3 linked regions of the Homo sapiens genome follow. The protein of the gene in region 1 interacts with the protein of each later gene in a pairwise test. Each region holds a gene or a part of one and is shown on either strand. Other genes may lie near its edges.

Evidence for each region. Proteins that work in one complex are often made in the same cells at the same time.
Region 2: the proteins of ABHD4 (region 1) and PLIN3 interact in binary tests that used the Homo sapiens proteins (3 or more experiments, as listed by UniProt).
Region 3: the proteins of ABHD4 (region 1) and HTATIP2 interact in binary tests that used the Homo sapiens proteins (3 or more experiments, as listed by UniProt).

What each region holds. Positions count from the first base shown.
Region 1 is NC_000014.9:22,608,289-22,613,487, reverse strand, and holds the end of ABHD4 ((Lyso)-N-acylphosphatidylethanolamine lipase), read right to left. Parts: intron 3,765-5,199; coding exon 3,578-3,764; intron 2,630-3,577; coding exon 2,540-2,629; 3' UTR 525-2,539; downstream 1-524. UniProt on the Homo sapiens protein: Lysophospholipase selective for N-acyl phosphatidylethanolamine (NAPE).
Region 2 is NC_000019.10:4,837,828-4,843,689, forward strand, and holds the end of PLIN3 (perilipin-3), read right to left. Parts: intron 1,710-5,862; coding exon 1,365-1,709; 3' UTR 514-1,364; downstream 1-513. UniProt on the Homo sapiens protein: Structural component of lipid droplets, which is required for the formation and maintenance of lipid storage droplets. Required for the transport of mannose 6-phosphate receptors (MPR) from endosomes to the trans-Golgi network.
Region 3 is NC_000011.10:20,366,692-20,373,726, reverse strand, and holds part of HTATIP2 (protein HTATIP2), read right to left. Parts: intron 6,554-7,035; coding exon 6,446-6,553; coding exon of another isoform or gene 6,347-6,445; exon of another isoform or gene 6,072-6,346; intron 1-6,071. UniProt on the Homo sapiens protein: Represses translation by preventing reactivation of elongation factor eEF1A. May also inhibit nuclear import by competing with nuclear import substrates for binding to a subset of nuclear transport receptors.

The sequences.
Region 1 (5,199 bases):
GTCCTTCCCCTTTCCCTGGTCCTGCCTTCAGGCACAGCTGCCATCACTTCTGCAGGAGGTTTTCTCAATTCTCACGGGTAGCACTTTAGCAATTTTACATTGATTTACATAATATTTTGACTAGGTGCATCTCTTTGAGTGAACTGGAATTTCTCACAAAGGCAGACACTCTCTGTTTCTTCACTATTGCAGCCCTAGTGGTTGGCATGTAGTAAGCTCTATATACCTGCCTTCTCCTCCCTATAAAAATCCTCAGAGAAGACACAGGGTCCTGAGATGGATCAGAACTTTGTAATTATATTCAGGAGGAGTTCTGTCTATTCATTCATCATGACATGTGTAGTATCATGTGCTTTTTTTTTAAAATTTAGGTTTAATACATTTTCAATCAGCCTATGCACATGGAATATGCGCCATTTAGAACCGTGGAATTCTGGGCCCAGCTGGACTCAGCCAGCACAGAGCAAGCACTGTTAGTAATGATTTGAACACTTTTTTGAATACTTGGTATATCTCACTTCCCGTGGCATGATGAAAACAAACATTTATTGAACACGAACTATGTGCTAGATGTACCCTTTGTCTTTATGTTGCTTATGGTCTGGGGAGGAAAGAGACGCTAAACAAGTAACCACAAGTTTATAAGTTTTACAAAAGGGGCAGATGATATGCCACAGAGATGCAGAACAGAGGGGTCCGAGTCTAGTTTAGGGAATCAGGGGAAGGCATCTCTGCATAAGGAATATTTGAGCTGAGATCCAGAGGATGAGAGGAAGTTAGAGCAGGATGCAGGGAGCAGTACATGTGTGGGCTTCCCTTGAACTTAGGAAGAAAGGGTGTCTAATGGGCAGCAGGAAGTACTAAGTTCCACCTCTCTACTGTGAACTGGGGCTTGCCCCATCCACACTGTGGATCTCGACTCCTCATTTGTCATGAGTGGTTGGCTGAGAGGGCCTGTGCTGACCTGGACTCTGGGCTGGGTCTAGCGGGCAAACGCCACACTAAAAGGAGAAGGAGTCGTGGGTAGGCAGGCAACCCTCAGGACTCCCTTCTCTCAGGCATCACACAGGCTGTTGCGAATTCAGCACCACCAGTGATCAGAGCAATTTTAAACATCATCCCCACCGGTAATTTTTACTCGTTTCTTTATTAATATAGAAAAGGAGCCCAGGGCAGCTGGACCAGTAGTACAAAGCACCAGGAGTTAATACCATTCTGGTGAAGGGGATGGTTTTACAAAAGTGAAGGAGCAGGCAGGAGCCACCAGGTTCTGAGGCCAGGCCCAGCCTACTGCCCAGAACCCCTGAAACGGCTCCCTGGGAAAAAGCTGACAGATGGGTCAGGGGTGGATTGAGCTGGAAACCATGGGGACAGATGGCAGGGATAGAGGGTCATGCAGTGGGAACCACCCAGTGGCTGATAAGGACAGGGAACTTGTGGCTGGAGGCTCCCCATTGGGCCATGGGCAGGGGCTTGCAGATGGCCTCAGCTCTGGGGGCAGGTAGAGAAACTGCAGAGACTGATGGGCATGGAGAACCCAGACATGGCCCTGGGGCTGAAGGGCCTTTCCACCCTCTCTTCACCAGGAGCCACCTTTGCTCTATACTACATATGGGGCTTCAGGGCCCAAGGCACAGGGGAGGCTCAGAGGCCTCCAGTTGGGAGGAAGATGGGGCAAGGAAGGAAGCACTTGAGTGTCCCTAGCTTAGGCAGCCGGGGATGAGACACAGGCAGGACAACAGCACCCCCGCATAGTGGGGCTAGAATGTGGGACAGGGACGGGCTTATCCTCGGCCAGTGACTAGGACCAGCCCCATGGCAATGGTGCCTGTCTCCAGCCTTAGCAAATCAAGTGTGCAACAAGCACAGGGTGTCGGCAGACCTGGGCTCTAGCCTTACAAGCTCTGCCAGAACTTGAATCACACAGAGCTGTATCACCATGGTCCAGCCATGTCCTGCCTTGGCCTGTTTCCTCCTCTGTCAATGAGGGCTTTGAATAAGACCTCCTAGGTCATGAAAAGGACTCTGCAGGTGAAGGGAACTCCAGGACCTGCTCTTGGCAGTTAAGCAGACCCTGGATGGAACTGGTATGGGATGGGGTGAAGTGGGGGATGGAGGAGGAAGGTGTTCTTGCATGGAACCTATCCCCACAAACACTACAGAGTGAGGAAAGGCCACTGGAAGCCCTTCTTTGCCCAGAGGAAGAAAGGCCACAGAGAGAGTGAATGTGGCTTGGTGCAATCCCTTCACATCCTCCACCATCTGGGTAACACTTGGCAAGGAGTGGATGGGTGGCATTGTGCAACCCTTTATGTTCTTCCCTGGGGGTGGCACTCAAGGCCTCTTGTGGCTTCTGCCTTCAGCCTTCAGTGTAGGGTCAAGAGTGTTCTTTTCACTGTCGTCCTGTTCTGGGAACAGCACAAGACTCTGCCTGGCTGGCACATGTTAGTTGGTGAGGAAAGGACAGAGTGGGTGAGTAAGCAGACAGGGAGGTAAGAGTGACTCTCTGGCTTTCTCCTCTTCCTCTTCAGAGAGCAGCTCAATCAACTGAGTCGCAGATCTCCTCCACCACAGCATTGAAGATGTGTGGCTGGTCAGCATAGACATGGTGGGAGGCACCCTTAATCTCCTGTGGAGAGAGAACCCGCAGGGGTGGGATGGCCTTTTATTCCTGGTGCTGGGAAGCCTTCACGCTATTTCTTTTCCCCTTAGACTTGCTTGCCTGCCACCCACGAGCTCTTATCAGAGATAATGCTCCACCTTTCTCGCTTGGATCTTGGTATTTTCCTTTGACAGCCAATGCTTTCCCATTCTACTTACTTGATAAACATTCACTGTGTCTTTCCTTCTGTGTTAGCCCCACCACTGATCTGCTCATTTAATCCAAAGGTCCAGTAAACCTGGGCCCATGGTTGGCACCCAGCCTCATTAAGCACACTCATTGGCACATGGCGGAGAGGGGTAAGAAAAAAGGGGAGGAGGTGTGGTGGGGAAGCTTCATGGCAGCCTCTACTATTCACTCTACTGCCCATGGCTCTGGTTTTGGGGTAGAAACTACATGGGGGCTGGAGTAGCAGCAGGTGCCTGGCTGCTAGACAAGAACCAGCCTTTTAGCTGAACTGGGCTAAAAGCAGGAAGCCCCTAATGAAGGTAGTACAATACGAGCACTTTGGGAGGCCAAGGTGGGCGGATCACGTGAGGTCAGGAGTTCGAGACCAGCCTGACCAACATGGAGAAACCTCGTCTCTACTAAAAATACAAAATTAGCTGGGCGTGGTGGCGCATGCTAATAATCCCAGCTACTCGGGAGGCTGAGGCAGAAGAATCGCTTGAACCCGGGAGGCGGAGGTTGCAGTGAGCCGAGATTGTACCATTGCCCTCCAGCCTGGGCAACAATAGCGAGACTCCATCACGAAAAAAAAAAGATATTCCAAAGAGAGTTTCCAAACTTCTCAAATCTACTGCTCTATCTCAGTCTGTCCATTCCTCTTTCTCCTTGATCACCCTTCTCTACCCCAAGGCTGAGAGGTGATTGACTCTCAGTCATCATTTCCACTCCTTGGGTGGTGCAACATACCATGTCTCGGACATAGGAATCCGGCCGCTGCATCTTCACCTTTTTTCCCGTACTGGTATCTATCCAGGTGTCGGACCCGTAGATCATAGTGATAGGCACATCTTTTCGAATCAAGTGAATTCGCTCCAGCATAGGGCGCCGGGCCCAGCCAAAGGACTCCATCATGGCTTTGAATGCTGTCTCACCACTGTCAAAAGCAAAACAGCAATAAACTTCACAGCAGAATATGTCAACTTGTTGGTCTCTTCAGAGACTGAGGCAGAATCTTAGTCACCTTTGTATTCCTGTCAAAGCCCCACACTGGGCTCATTAAATATTGGTAAGATTAGGGGAAGACCAAAATTCCAGAGGCCTCCCATCACAGAAGAGTTCGGAGGAACACTTGTGAAAAACCCCATGGCAGTACGAACTGTCCAAGAATCTGAGAATGAAATGGGTTATTATTGACTCAACAAATATTCTGTCATGCCCTGGACTGGGAAAGGGGACATATGAACAAGAAAGGCAGGATGCTGTCCCTCCTGGAGCTCACACACTTTAGCTCATGTGTTAGGGAGGTAGGCATTAAGTAACTAATCATATGATTAATTGTTATTTAATTTAAAATTTCTTGGGCTGGGCACGGTGGCTCACACCTGTAATCCCAGCACTTTGGGAGGCCGAGGCGGGCGGATCATTTGAGGTCAGGGGTTTAAGACCAGCCTGGCCAACATGGTGAGACCCTGTCTCTACTAAAAATACAAAAATTAGCGGGGCGTGGTGGTGCGCTTCTGTAATCCCAGCTACTCAGGAGGCTGAGGTAGGAGAATTGCTTGAGCCTGGGAGACAGAGGTTGCAGTGAGCCAAGATCACGCCACTGCACTCTAGCCTGGGTGACAGAGCGAGACTCTGTCTCAAAAAAACAAACGAACAGCCAGGCATGGAGGCTCATGCCTATAATCCCAGCACTTTGGGAGGCTGATGCGGGCAGATCACCTGAGGTCGGGAGTTCGAGACCAGCCTGGCCAACATGGTGAAACCCATCTCTACTAAAAATACAAAATTAGCCAGGCATGGTGGTGCATGCCAGCAATCCCAGCTACTTGGGAGGCTGAGGCAGGAGAATCGCTTGAACCTGGGAGGCAGAGGTTGCAGTGAGCCGAGATCGTGCCATTGCACTCCAGCCTGGGCAATGAGCAAACCTCCATCTCAAAAACAAACAAACAAACAAACAAAAAACAACTTAAAATTTCCCAAGAAGGATGAAAAGGTGGTCGAGTGCTATGAAAACACAGACTGGGGATTTAGCCTGTTGGGGGTCTAGAGACATGGTCAGAAGTTCATCTGAGGTGAACGCTTAAAAGTGAGTACTATAGTAGTAAAAAGGGCTTCCTGAGAAGACTCTGGAATTAAAAATCAGTCTTCCAAGGGCTGGGGGAGCAGCAGTTTCTGTTAAGCAAGAAACAACAAATGCCAATGTAATCTATTTCACTCCCCGGTCATTTGCTCAGGTAGAATGAATTGAGGCCGTATCATGAGGTGTCCACAAGGCTGGGGCAGAGCCAGCTTTCTGGGGCTGGTCTGCAGCTTCTGCTAGAGATAGGGCAGGTTGGGGACACTGCTGCCTCCTAGGCTTGGCCTGT
Region 2 (5,862 bases), on another chromosome or scaffold:
TTGCTCTGTTGCCCAGGCTGGAGTGCAGTAGTGCGATCTTGGCTCACTGCAGTCTCAAACTCCTGGGCTCAAGTGACCCTCCCACCTTACCATGCCTGGCTAACTTAAAAAAAAAAAATTTGTGTAGAGATGGGGTCTTGCTATGTTGCCCAGGCCAGTCTCAAACTCCTGGCCTCAAGTGATCCTCCCACCTCGGCCTCCCAAAGTGCTGGGATTACAGGCGTGAGCCACTGTGCCAGGCCTGCCAGTGTCTTGATCTTGGACTTCCCCGCCTCCGGAACTGTGAGAAATCAATTTCTGTTGCTCATAAATTACCCAGCCTGGCCAGGCACTTTGGGAGGACGTGGTGAGAGGAACGCTTGAGCTCAGGAGTTCAAGATCAGCCTGGGCAACATAGCAAGACCCCGTCTCTACAAAATAAATAAATGAATAAATAAATTACCCTGCCTAAGATATTTCTGTTCTAGCAGCAGGGACAGATGAAGACACACACACGTACACACATGGCCTGTATGCAGTTGTGGGTGAAGTTTATTAAGGCAATACTGAATACCAGAGCATTTCAACAAGGCTTACCACACAGGCCCCAGTACCTTTCTACTCTACAATGAGGCTCAGAAGCTCAGTGTACCACCCCATCCCCAGGAGGCCCACTTAGACCAGAAATCCCAAGTCCATTAGCTACAGGCTGATATTCAGGGACATCGGTGTAAACAAAGAAGTGGGATATGAACTATATCCCTGATTTTTTTTTCTTTTTTTTTTTTTTTGAGACTAAGTCTCACTCTTGTCCCCCAGGCTGGAGTGCAATGGCGCGATCTTGGCTCACTGCAACCTCCGCCTCTCAGGTTCAAGAGATTCTCTTGCCTCAGCCTCCTAACTGGGATAACAGACACCTGCTACCATGCCCGGCTCATTTTTTTTTGTATTTTTAGTAGAGACGGGGTTTCACCATGTTGGCCTGGCTGGTCTCGAACACCTGACCTCAGGTGTTCCGCCCGCCTCAGCCTCCCAAAGTGCTGGGATTACAGGTGTGAGCCACCGCACCCGGCCTATATTCCTGATATTTAACAAGGAAAAAAAATTCTGCAGGGGAGAACTTTCCTGAAAGATATTTTTTCTGGACATCTCTCTCTACTGACTGATAGGGTGAGGCTCAGAACAGGCTTCTTCCAAGCTCAGAGAGGCTGAGAGATGGGTCAACTGGGTGATGCCCGTTTTGAGAGCCTTAGCTTCCCAAGTGGACAGCACAGAAGAGCTGGGAGGAGTGGCTAGAAAATAAGTTTGAAATGAGCCCCGGGTTGAGGACTCCAGAGCACAGCTGCATTATAGAGACGGGGCCCGCTGAGTCCTCTCCTCTCCCCCTACTTCTTCTCCTCCGGGGCTTTCTCAGTGATTCCAGGGGCAAAGGGTCCCACGAGCCACGTGACAGGTGTGTTCTGGGCCACATATTCCACCATGTGGTCCAGGGCCTCGCGGGCGCTGGCGACACGCTCACGGCTCTGGGCCAGAATGCTGCTGGACAGGTCCTGGAAGGAGTGGATGCTGGAAAACGTGGCCTGGAGGTCCTCCACCTGGCGGCGGGCCTGCTGCACCTGGTCCTTCACATTGGTGGGGAGGCCCTGAATGCTGGACCCCAGGGAGGTACAGGTGGCCTGCAGTTGCTGGGCAATGTCCCGGAACATGGTGAGCGCCCGGGACTCGACCTGCTGAGAAGGGAGATGGGGACACCAATCAGGACCATTTGTTTCAGGAAAGGCGATCGGAGCTGAAGCCAGGGAAAGAGGGGAAGAGGGGTTCTACCACTGACCTTGGGGCAAACGCTTTCCATAGGCGAAACTTTTTTTTTTTTTTTTGAGACGGAGTCTCGCCCTGTCGCCCAGGCTGGAGTGCAGTGGCACAATCTCAACTCACTGCAAGCTCCGCCTCTCAGGTTCGCGCCATTCTCCTGCCTCAGCCTCCCGAGTAGCTGGGACTACAGGCGCCCACCACCACGCCAGGCTAATTTTTTGTATTTTTAGTAGAGACGGGGTTTCACCGTGTTAGCCAGGATGGTCTTGATCTCCTGACCTCGTGATCCGCCTGCCTTGGCCTCCCAAAATGCTGGGATTACAAGCGTGAGCCACCGTGCCCGGCCCTTTTTTTTTTTTTTTTTTTTGAGATAGAGTCTTGCTCTGTTGCCCAGGTTGGCGTGCAGTGGCATGATTTTGGCTCACTGCAACCTCCGCCTCCCAGGTTCAAGCGATTCTCCTACCTCAGCCTCCCGAATAGCTAGGACTACAGGCGCGTGCCACCACGCCCGTCTAACTTTTGCATTTTTAGTACAGATGGGGTTTCACCATGTTGGCCAGGCTGGTCTTGAACTCTACCTCAAGTGATCGGCCCTCCTTGGCCTCCCAAAGTACTGAGATTACAGGCATGAACCACCGCGCCCAGACTCTTTTCTTTTAATTAGAAACAGGATCTCACTTTGTCGCCCAGGCTGGAGTGCAGTGGCGTGATCATAGCTTACTACAGCCTGTAACTCCTGAGCTCAAGTTATCCTCTCATTTCAGCCTGCCTGACTACAGGCACTCACTACCACGCCCAGCTACATTTTTAAAATTTTCTGTAGAGCCAGGATCTCACTAAGTTGCCCAGGTCTTAAACTCCTGGGCCCAAGTGACCTGCCCACTTCAGCCTCCCAAAATGCTGGAATTACAGGCACGAGCCACTGCATTTGGCCACTAGTCAAATTCTTTAAAGGGCATAGACAAATCACCAAAGAAGATATAGGGAGAGCACATGAAAAGCTGTTTGACCTTATAAGTCATTGAGGAAATGCAAATCAAAACCATAAGGAGGCCTGGCATGGTGGCTCATGCCTGTAATCCCAGCACTTTGGGAGGCCAAGGTGCGTGGATCACCGAGGTCAGGAGTTCAGCCTGACCAACATGGCGAAACCCGCATTTCTACTAAAGATACAAAATTAGCCGGGTGTGGTGGCATGTGCCTATAATCCCAGCTACACAGGAAGCTGAGGCAGAAGAACTGCTTGCACCCAGGAGGCGGAGGTTGCAGTGAGCCAAGATCATGCCATTGCACTCCAGCCTGGGCAACAGAGCGAGACTCTGTCTCAAAAACAAACAAACAAACAAAAACCCCAGAGGCTATCAGATGATACCCACTGTCAGTCAAGAGGCGGAGAAATTGGAAGCCTCGTGTATTGCTGGTGGTATAGTTACTTTGGAAAACAGTCTAGCGGTTACTCAAAATGTTAAACCATAGAATCATCATATGACTCGGCAATTCTAGTTGTGGGTGTGTGCACAAGAGAAACGGAAACATACGTCCACACACAAAGACATGCACACAGGGGCACAGCAAAAAGTAGAAACGACTCAAGTGTCCTTCGGTTGATAAATGGGTGAACAGAATGTGATCCACCCATACAACAGAATGTGACTCAGCCATGGAACGTCATGGGGCTCTGACCCAGGCCACAGCATGGGTGAGCCCTAAGGACGTCACGCTCAGCGCGAGAAGCCGGACACAAAAGGCCAAACAGGGTGTGATCCCATTTCTATGAAATGTCCAGGACAGGCCCATCCAGAGACAGGAGGGGATACGTGGTTGGGAGGAGGAGGAAATGGGGCAGTGACTGCTGATGGGAAAAGGGTTTCTTTTTAGGGGCATGAGATGAGATAGGGATAGTTGCACAATGCTGAGAACCAGCGATGTGTATGCTTTAAATGCGTGACTTGTATGGTATGCAAATGAGATCTCAATAAAACTGTTAAAAAAAAAAAAAAGGCTGGGTGCGGTGGCTCACCCCTGTAATCCCCAGCACTTTGGGAGGCCGAGGAGGGTGGATCATGAGGTCAGGACGATCGGGACCATCCTGGCTAACATGGTGAAACCCCATCTCTACTAAAAAAACACAAAAAAATTAGCTGGGCATGGTGGCGGGAGCCTGTAGTCCTAGTTACTTAGGAGGCTGAGGCAGGAGAATGGCGTGAATCCGGGAGGCGGAGCTTGCAGTGAGCCGAAATCGCGTCACTGCACTCCAGCCTGGGCGACAGAGCGAGACTCCATCTCAAAAAAAAAAAAAAAAAAAAAAGAAAAAAAAAAGCTGTTAAAAAACAAAAAGTGGAAGCCAGGCTGGGACAGCCTGGAAGAACTTTCTAGGCAGAAGTTGTAAACCATCCGGGGAGAACATAGTTGAAATCAGGTCCTTGAAAATTTCCTTGGCCAGAGAGTGAGATGAGCACAGACAGGGTTCGAGACCAGCCTGGCCAACATGGTGAGACCCCATCTCTACTAAAAATACAAAAATTAGGCCGGGCGCAGTGGGTCAGGCCTGTAATCCCAGCACTTTGGGGGGCCAAGACGGGTGGATAACTTGAGGTTAGGAGTTCTAGACCAGCCTGGCAAACATGACAGAACCCTGTCTCTACTAAAAATACAAAAAAATTAGCTGGGTGTGGTTGCAGGCGCCTGTAATCCCAGCTACTTGGGAGACTGAGGCAGGAAAATTGCTTGAACCCAGGAGGTGGAGGCTGCAGTGAGTCAAGATCACGCCACTGCACTCCAGCTTGGGTGACGGAGTGAGACTCTGTCTCAAAAATAAATAAATAAATCAAATTAGCTGGGCGTGGTGGCAGGTGCCTGTAGTCTCAGCTACTCGGGAGGCTGAGGCAGGAGAATCGCTTGAACCCGGGAGGCAGAGGTTGCAGTGAGCCGAGATCATGACATTGCACTCCAGCCAGGGTGACAGAGTGAGACTCTATCTCAAAAAAAAAAAAAAAAAAAAAAAAGGCACACACTGGGAGGTAGGGTTTTGCCCAGAGCCCTGGCAGCTGGAGGACTCTGGACTTGAGCGAGGGATTACGGGAGAGTGCCCACGTGAGAGAGATAAGATCTGGTTTTTTCATTTGAAAAGTCATTCTGGCTGCTGTGCTTAGCAGTCGGGGAAACAGGAGACAGTTTTAGGCAGCAGGTGGTCTAGTTCTGCCTCCCGAACAATTTGCATTTATAGAGATATTCACCATATCTTTATGCATGTCACTTTTGTAGCCCTTACTATGTGCTTTTGATATGATCTCATTTCAGTTTTTAAAAAATCGATCTGGGTCCGGGCACGGTGGCTCACGCCTGTAATACCAGCACTTTGGGAGGCCGATGTGGGCGGATCACCTGCGGTCAGGAGTTTGAGACCAGCCTGGCCAACATGGCGAAACCCCGTGTCTACTAAAAAGTACAAAAATTAGCCGGGCGTGGTGACGCATGCCTGTAATCCCATCTACTGGGGAGGTGGAGACAGGAGAACCACTTGAACCCAGGAGGCAGAGGTTGCAGTGAGCTGAGATTGTGCCACTGCACTCCAGCCTGGGCAACAGAGCAATAAATAAATAAATAGGCAGGGTGCGGTGGCTCACGCCTGTAATCCCAGCACTTTGGGAGGCCGAGGCGGGCGGATCACAAGGTCAGCAGATCAAGACCATCCCGGGTAACACGGTGAAATCGCGTCTCTACTAAAAATACAAAAAAAATTAGCTGGGCCTGGTGGCGGGCGCCTGTAGTCCCAGATACTCGGGAGGCTGAGGCAGGAGAATGGCGTGAACCTGGGAGGCAGAGCTGGTAGTGAGCTGAGATTACACCACTGCACTCCAGCCTGGGTGACAGAGCGAGACTCCATCTCAAAAAATAAATAAATAAATAAATAAATAAATAATTGATCTGGGGTCGGGTGTGGTGGCTCATGCCTGTAATCCCAGTGCTTTGGAAGGCTGAAGTGGGAGTATTGCTTGACACCAGGAGCTCAAGACCAGCCTGGGCAACACAGTGAGATCCTGTCTCTACTAAAAATTAAAAAAAAAATTA
Region 3 (7,035 bases), on another chromosome or scaffold:
CATCTGTTTCTTCCCCTCATGCCAGTTTATCAGAACTCTGATTTTAATGACAGGTTAGTTATTCACAACAAAATGACACAGTTGACTAGTGAAATAAATTCAGTTTTTTTGTTGTTGTTGTTTTAGCAAGATTGATTGGAAGGATTATTATAGTAGTCTGTTAAAATACTTTTTCTTTCATCCGTTTCTTTAAAAATAAGGGAAAGATTCAGCCAATCACAAGTCTCCTGACCGACGCTGTCTCTCTCACTTAATCCAGAGCCAGTAAAAGGATAATTTGATTAAACTGAGACCCTAATTTATTTGGCTTTAGTTCTGGATCAACCTCTCCTTAATAGAGTGCTGTCGTCTCCAATTGTTTGATGAAAATTAAAGTGACATAAATACCATGGGACTTTTTCAATCTGATTAGTCAGCGAAGGCACATCAATACCACCCCGGCCATCAGACTTTGGCGTCCTTCCTTTCACCCGCCTCGCTAACGACTGACAACCGCTCCTTGAAGGACGAGCACCCACGCTGCTGCAGAGACCCCCACACTTAGCCCATCATCCCTGCTCAATGGGGCCTGTTGACAAGGTGCCCATACCTTTCTCCATTGCTGTTCTCTGGACAAAGCTAAATATTGTTTTATTAGCAATCAATGGCTGTTAATCCAAAACGATTTCACAAATCCTCTGAGCCTTCAAGCTCATTATAAATACGCGTTTTTCCAAGCCCACTAAATTTTGAATTTCACTTCCGTCACCCTGATGGCGTGGCCTTTTAGCTGGTGAATGAAACTCAAAAGCAAAAGGGTCAACAGCTTTCAAAGACTTAAAAATCAAACTGAAGCATGGGTCCTGATGACTGACTAGGAGGTATCACACACCAATTTTCTCTGGAGTGAGGAAGATTCTATTTACAGATGAAAGGAGCGATCTCGAAAATCTTATTCATGCCCTTTATTGTTCTCCAATAGCTCGATTAAAAAAACAACAGAAAAACTAACTAAAGCAAGCTATTTCATATCTCAGAAACACAATTTTTAGAAAAACTGTACTTAGTTTCCCTAACCATGTGGACAGACATCTCTTCTGAGAGTATTAAGTCCACATGTCATTCTGTCTTTATGATTCCATAGCCAATGTGTCCTGCTCTAAGCTAGGAATCTGAGTCCCTTCTAGAAAAAGGAATTAATTAAATAAGTTCCCACTATAAAGTCCTTTCCCAGCACCCTCTCAAAAAGAATAAACACAGTATACTACACTCAGTAGAGATATCCTCATAGGCTCCACAACATCAAAGGCAGCAAATTCTCCAACGACTCTTAAGTCTTACTAAAATCCAAAGCTACTAAGTATTTCTTCTAATCTTCTTTACCAGTGCCTGAAAACTAAAAACAACATTCTGGCTTCAGAACAACTCATCCTAACAAGGTATAGTATTTCAGTGCTGACTGATAGGACAAGTTAGCACGTCTAAACGACTCAAGAAGGTCATGGGGTCAGGCACGGTGGTCTGTGGTCCCAGCTACTCAGGAGGCTGAAGCAGGAAGATCGCTTGATCCCAGGAATTTGAGTCTAGCCTTGGCAACACAGTGAGACCCTGTCTCTAAAAAATTAATTAATTTATAAAAAAGTAAATCATGGGGATCTTTTTCCAAGAAGGGTGGGTCTATCATTCTGTAAAGGTCCCATTCAGCCCTATTTCTGCTTCAGGTTCTTTCTCCTTCACTCCCTTTCAATCCAACCCTATAAATTAGACTAGAAAACAAAGATGCTGACAAACACCAAATGGTATAATCTGAGGCACCTTTTGTTTGTGTCCTGGAGGGCATCTCCATATTTGATGTTCAATGGTAGGGGAAAGATCTTGGTTAGAGAAGTTCTGGATAGATAAATAAAATCAAGCAGATACTGAGGATTCCTGGGTCAATCTATATGTTCTTGAAAAAGTTTTCCAATTGGATATTCTTTCTTCTGTGTTTCATAGAGTCAAAGAATTTTTCAGGCCGGGTGCGATGGCTCATGGTAATCCCAGCACTTTGGGAGGCCGAGGCAAGCAGATCACTTGAACCCAGGAGTTCAAGACCAGCCTGGGTGGGAAGCATGGCAAAACCCTGTCTCTACAAAAAAAAATACAAAAATTAGCCAGCCATGGTGGCGCATGCCTGTGGTCCCAGCTACTTGGGAGGCTGAGGTGGGAGGATTGCTTGAGCTGGGTAGGTGGAGGCTGCAGTGACCGAAATCGCACTCCTGCAGTGAGCCGAAATCACACAACTGCACTCCAGCCTGGGCGATGGAATGAGACTCTGTCTCAAAAAAACAGAAAAATGTTTAAGAATTTTGCAGTAGGAAGGTGGGTTCACTGGTCACCTCCTTCTGACAGACAAGGAGGTAGTGGCCTCCAAAAGCTAACCAGCAAACTCCAGGCTCCATAGCTACTTGGCAACCAAACAGGGCCTGTGATCTGGGTCCCTTGAACCAGCTAGGACCTCGCCACTTCACAAGCCCCCTCCTAGACATCAAATAAACAACAGAGATTAGAACAAGGGTGGGCAAACTTTTCCTGTAAAGGATCAGACAGTAACTATTTTTAGCTTTGCAGGCCTCTGTTGCAACTATATAGCTCTACCATTATGTTAATAGCACAAAAGCAGCCACAGATAATACATAAAGTAATAAGCATGGCTGTGTCCCAATACCACTTTATGTATAAAGACTAAAATTTGAAGTTTTTATATTTTCACATGGTATGACATTATTCTTTTGAATTTTTTAACCAGTTAAAAATATAGGCCGGGTGCGGTGGCTCACGCCTGTAATCCCAGCACTTTGGGAGGCCAAGACGGGCAGATCACGAGGTCAGGAGATCGAGACCATCCTGGCTAACACGGTAAAACCCCATCTCTACTAAAAATACAAAAAATTAGCTGGGCATGGTGGTGGGCACCTGTAGTCCCAGCTACTTGGGAGGCTGAGGCAGGAGAATGGCGTGAACCCAGGAGGCGGAGCTTGCAGTGAGCCGAGATTGCGCCACTGCACTCTAGCCTGGGCAACTGAGCGAGACTCCGTCTCAAAAAAAAAATATATACATAAAGACATTCTTAGCTCACAGGGTGTACAAAAACAGGTGGCAGGCTGTATTGCAAACCTTTGAATTAGAAGAGCAGATCATTAGAATCAGAAGCCATAAGGTTCTAATGAGATGGGCCATGAGATGCCTAATAAATGTCACAGTGGCCACACTAATCACATTAATGACATCATCCACTCAACAGAAAACAAGAACCTGGACTTCTGGAGCCTACTACGACCAGGTGAGGAAACAAATGAAAAGGTGAAACCACATCGAACCACCTTGAATTCACTAATCAAATCCCTCTTTTGATACAAATAAGGGGAAATGAACTATTCTCACTGGCATCTCTAAGTTTTTGTGCTTCACTCCAGGACAATACAGATCTGGTTTTCAAAGGCTATTTCAATCTTCACTAGCAAACAAGTTACTCACTAAAGCAAGGCAAAGGTTATCCAGGACCACAGTACCCAGAAAACCAGCAAGTGAGGGGAATTAATACACCCCAATGCCTCTTGAAAGTAGGTTCAACAAGAAGGACAGGGTTGACTGCATCAGGATCTCCCAAGGAGCCTGCTAAAAATACAGATTCCAAGCTTCCAAATTCAGAGATGCTGATGCAGTAGATCTGGATCAGGGCCAAGTCAGGGAGCCAGTGCATTGACTGAACAACTGTGTTCTGTGAATATGAAAAGGAAGATTAGCATCTGCCCAGCTACTGTTAAAGGAAATAGTCTTCCAAACAGCTGAGGAAAGCTAATAGACCTTTTCCTAGAACCAGTGTCAATAGAAACCTGAGTAGACTGAATTTTGTGGGTTGGATTACATCCCCCCAAAATGCGTATGTTGAACTCCTAACCCCCATTACCTCAGAATATGACCTTATTTGGAAATAAGTTCATTGCAGATGTAATTAGTTGAGATCATACTAAATAGGGTGGTCCCTAATCCAGTATGACTAGTGGTCTTATAAAAAGGGGAAATGTGGATATAGGCACAGGTATTCAGGGAAAATACCACGTAAAGAGACACAAAGAGAAGGCTGCCATCTACAAGACAAGGAGAGGGCCTGGAAACTCAAGGGCTCAGCCTCAGAGCACTGACCAGCCTGCTGAGACCTGGATCTCAGACTTCTAGCCTCCAGAACTGTGAGACAATACGTTTCTGTTGTTCAAGCTACTTGGGTTATGGCAGCCCTAGCAAACTAATACACTGAACATCACATGGAAATAAGCCACCTACACAGAGGATCTCAATACTGAGACAAAAACGCTGAATTTCTTGAAGTTTCTCTGCTGGAAACACAGACTGCTAAGGCAATATATGAGGTGTTCCAGTTACAAAATCCCTAGTGAAGCGTACTAGTTTTGCCACTAGCTTTGTAGTACTCATATGATAAACCACCCAACGAACTTTTTTCTACAGAGAGGGCTGCTGACCCAGAACACCAGCTGGGATAAGCTTGGAAATCCACAACCTCCACTTAAAACACTATCGTTACTTAGCCACATATGAACTGTCACCTCTTTCATATTGGCTAAAGTTATCAACCTCCCAACTTTATATTGTACACAGCCCAAATTAGTTTTTTTTTTAAAGCCCCCAAAACAAACAAAACACTTTTCTGGTATAAGTGTCAGCTTGCTTTCCACCACTAACCTCTTAAATCATTTAAGTCCTAATTCATTTCTAAGCTAGGTGAATAGTCTAGGCTCATTAGTCTATTCTTGCTTACTAGTTAATTACTTTTATCTTTCCAAATTGATTTTAAAGGAGAACAAAAGGTATTGAATAGCCTGAGACGTGAAGAACCAACCCCATTAAAAAAGAAAATTCTGGATAGTAAAGACACACAATTCCTCTGATTAAAATTGCATTACCCATTTTGAACACAAAAAGCAGTTTAGACTTTTCCCTGGCACACCCTATAATGAGATTTGCCTTATGTCATGAAAATCAACCCTTCTATGCCTAATGCAGCATTTTGTTTTGCTGACTCACCACCAAAACCAGGTTGGCACTTGAGACAAACCTGCAGTGTCCTGGAACAAAAGTTTTTCAATGCTTTTGGAGGGCACACCACTTGTGACTGTGCCTGGGACAGAAAAGACTGCACCCACTGTTAAGCAGGAACATGACCCTTTCTAGGAGAGATAATGTGCCAATTCCTGGGAAAGTCAAACTTCTCTATAATCCATAGTTCCCATCACAGAGCTCCAATCCCAGCTGTGTTCCAGGACAGATAGGCAGAACTGCAGAAGGTATGGAAATACATCTTGATTGAAAGCATACATAGAATTACTCTTTGCATCACAAGGAGGCCCAAAGAAATACATCTGAATCTAACTACTCGGTTGGTATAAATGAATAGTTCTTCACTATATGCTCCCTTAATGTTTCAGGTGAAGGGGTCTGGCTTATAAACCTAAGGAGAATTCCCATGGCAGAGTCATAGTCATATATATATATATTTTTTCTTTTTTCTTGTTTTCCTGGGATTACAGGCATGAACCACTGTGCCTCGGCTTTATTTATTTATTTACTTTTTTCACTTTCTTCTGTTTTATTTATGTATTTATTATTAAATATTTTTAAATTTTACTTTAAGTTCTGGGATACATATGCAGAACATGCAGGTTTTTTCAGCTCCAGCATGTAAATTCTGCCAGAGGAATAAACTATAGTCAAAGTATAAATTAAATAAGATGTACCCGCACTAACATTTGCCCAGAATCCAGGTAGTAAACTCTGATTTCTAACTATGTAGTAAACTATGACTTCTGTACAGGAGCTGACTCAATTTAGAACACCATTAAAAAGAAAATAAAATGTGCGTTAAAAGACTTTTGCGTCAGTAAAGACTGAATCATTAGTGGGGTTGAATCATCGCTGAAGGCTGAGTCATCGCTGGAGGCTGGTTGAATCGTGCCTGTGTTCTGATGTTCTATTCCAGAAGTTTAAAGCTTGACATGAAAATAAGTTGAAGCAAATCACTCAAGTGAGACAGAACATTTCAAATTTCAAACATTTATTAAGGGGAAAAACAGCTGATTGTTAACAGCATAAACCAATTAGTTTTACTCAGACATCATGGTTTCCCTTAGTCAGGGGATGTAGTGATAGCGATAATCACAATAGGCAAAATCATGTAAATATTTACGACGTCTCCAGCACTGGGGCCTGAACTCAAGGATTACTTTGAAAGACGAACTTATCAGTACTATTAAAAGGATACCAAAGGTTAGTGCAGCATATAGAATCTTAAACAATAAAGGCTTATTCACATTTAAGCATTGCAACAGGCACAAAGAAAAAGAGTGAGCAAGAAAAGAATCCTTGATATTACTGGCCAGCAAAAAGGGAAAAGAGCATATGCCTTCCTTACCGCCCCAGCTTTCCCTCTGGTGGTACCCAGGCAACAGAATCCAACATCATGACCTTGAAAGGCAGAGGCGTAGTCATCCAACTTTTCAAAGTCCACCACTTCTTGATTCTAGGCAAGGACACAGTTGTATGTAGTTTCATGTTATTTAAACAACAGACCAAAAACCCCCTCTAGATTTAAAGACTAAGTTACAGAACATTACTGACAGGCCTGTCCACTTAACATCAAATTTTACAAATTCCTTTTCTCCAACCAAAAAGCAATGAACCTCAGTTGAAAATCAACAACACACACATATGTCCACAGTCTATATAACTGGACTAGGGGTGATCCAGATTTCTGAAGTCAGGTTCGATTATAATCTCTCTCTGGAAAAATAAAAGACCTGTGTGTAGCTAACCAGGAAGGAGACCACTGAGGTATGATGTGAGGGCAAGAGATGGCGTTTGGCATCTTAAAGAAGACCTAGCTGCAAATCTTGGGCTTGCTACACTCACTAGGCATGTAGTTACGGGCAAATTATTCATCATACACTACAGCTTTTTTTTTTCAGCTGTAAAATGGGGGTGATAATCTTTCCTTCAGTCCAA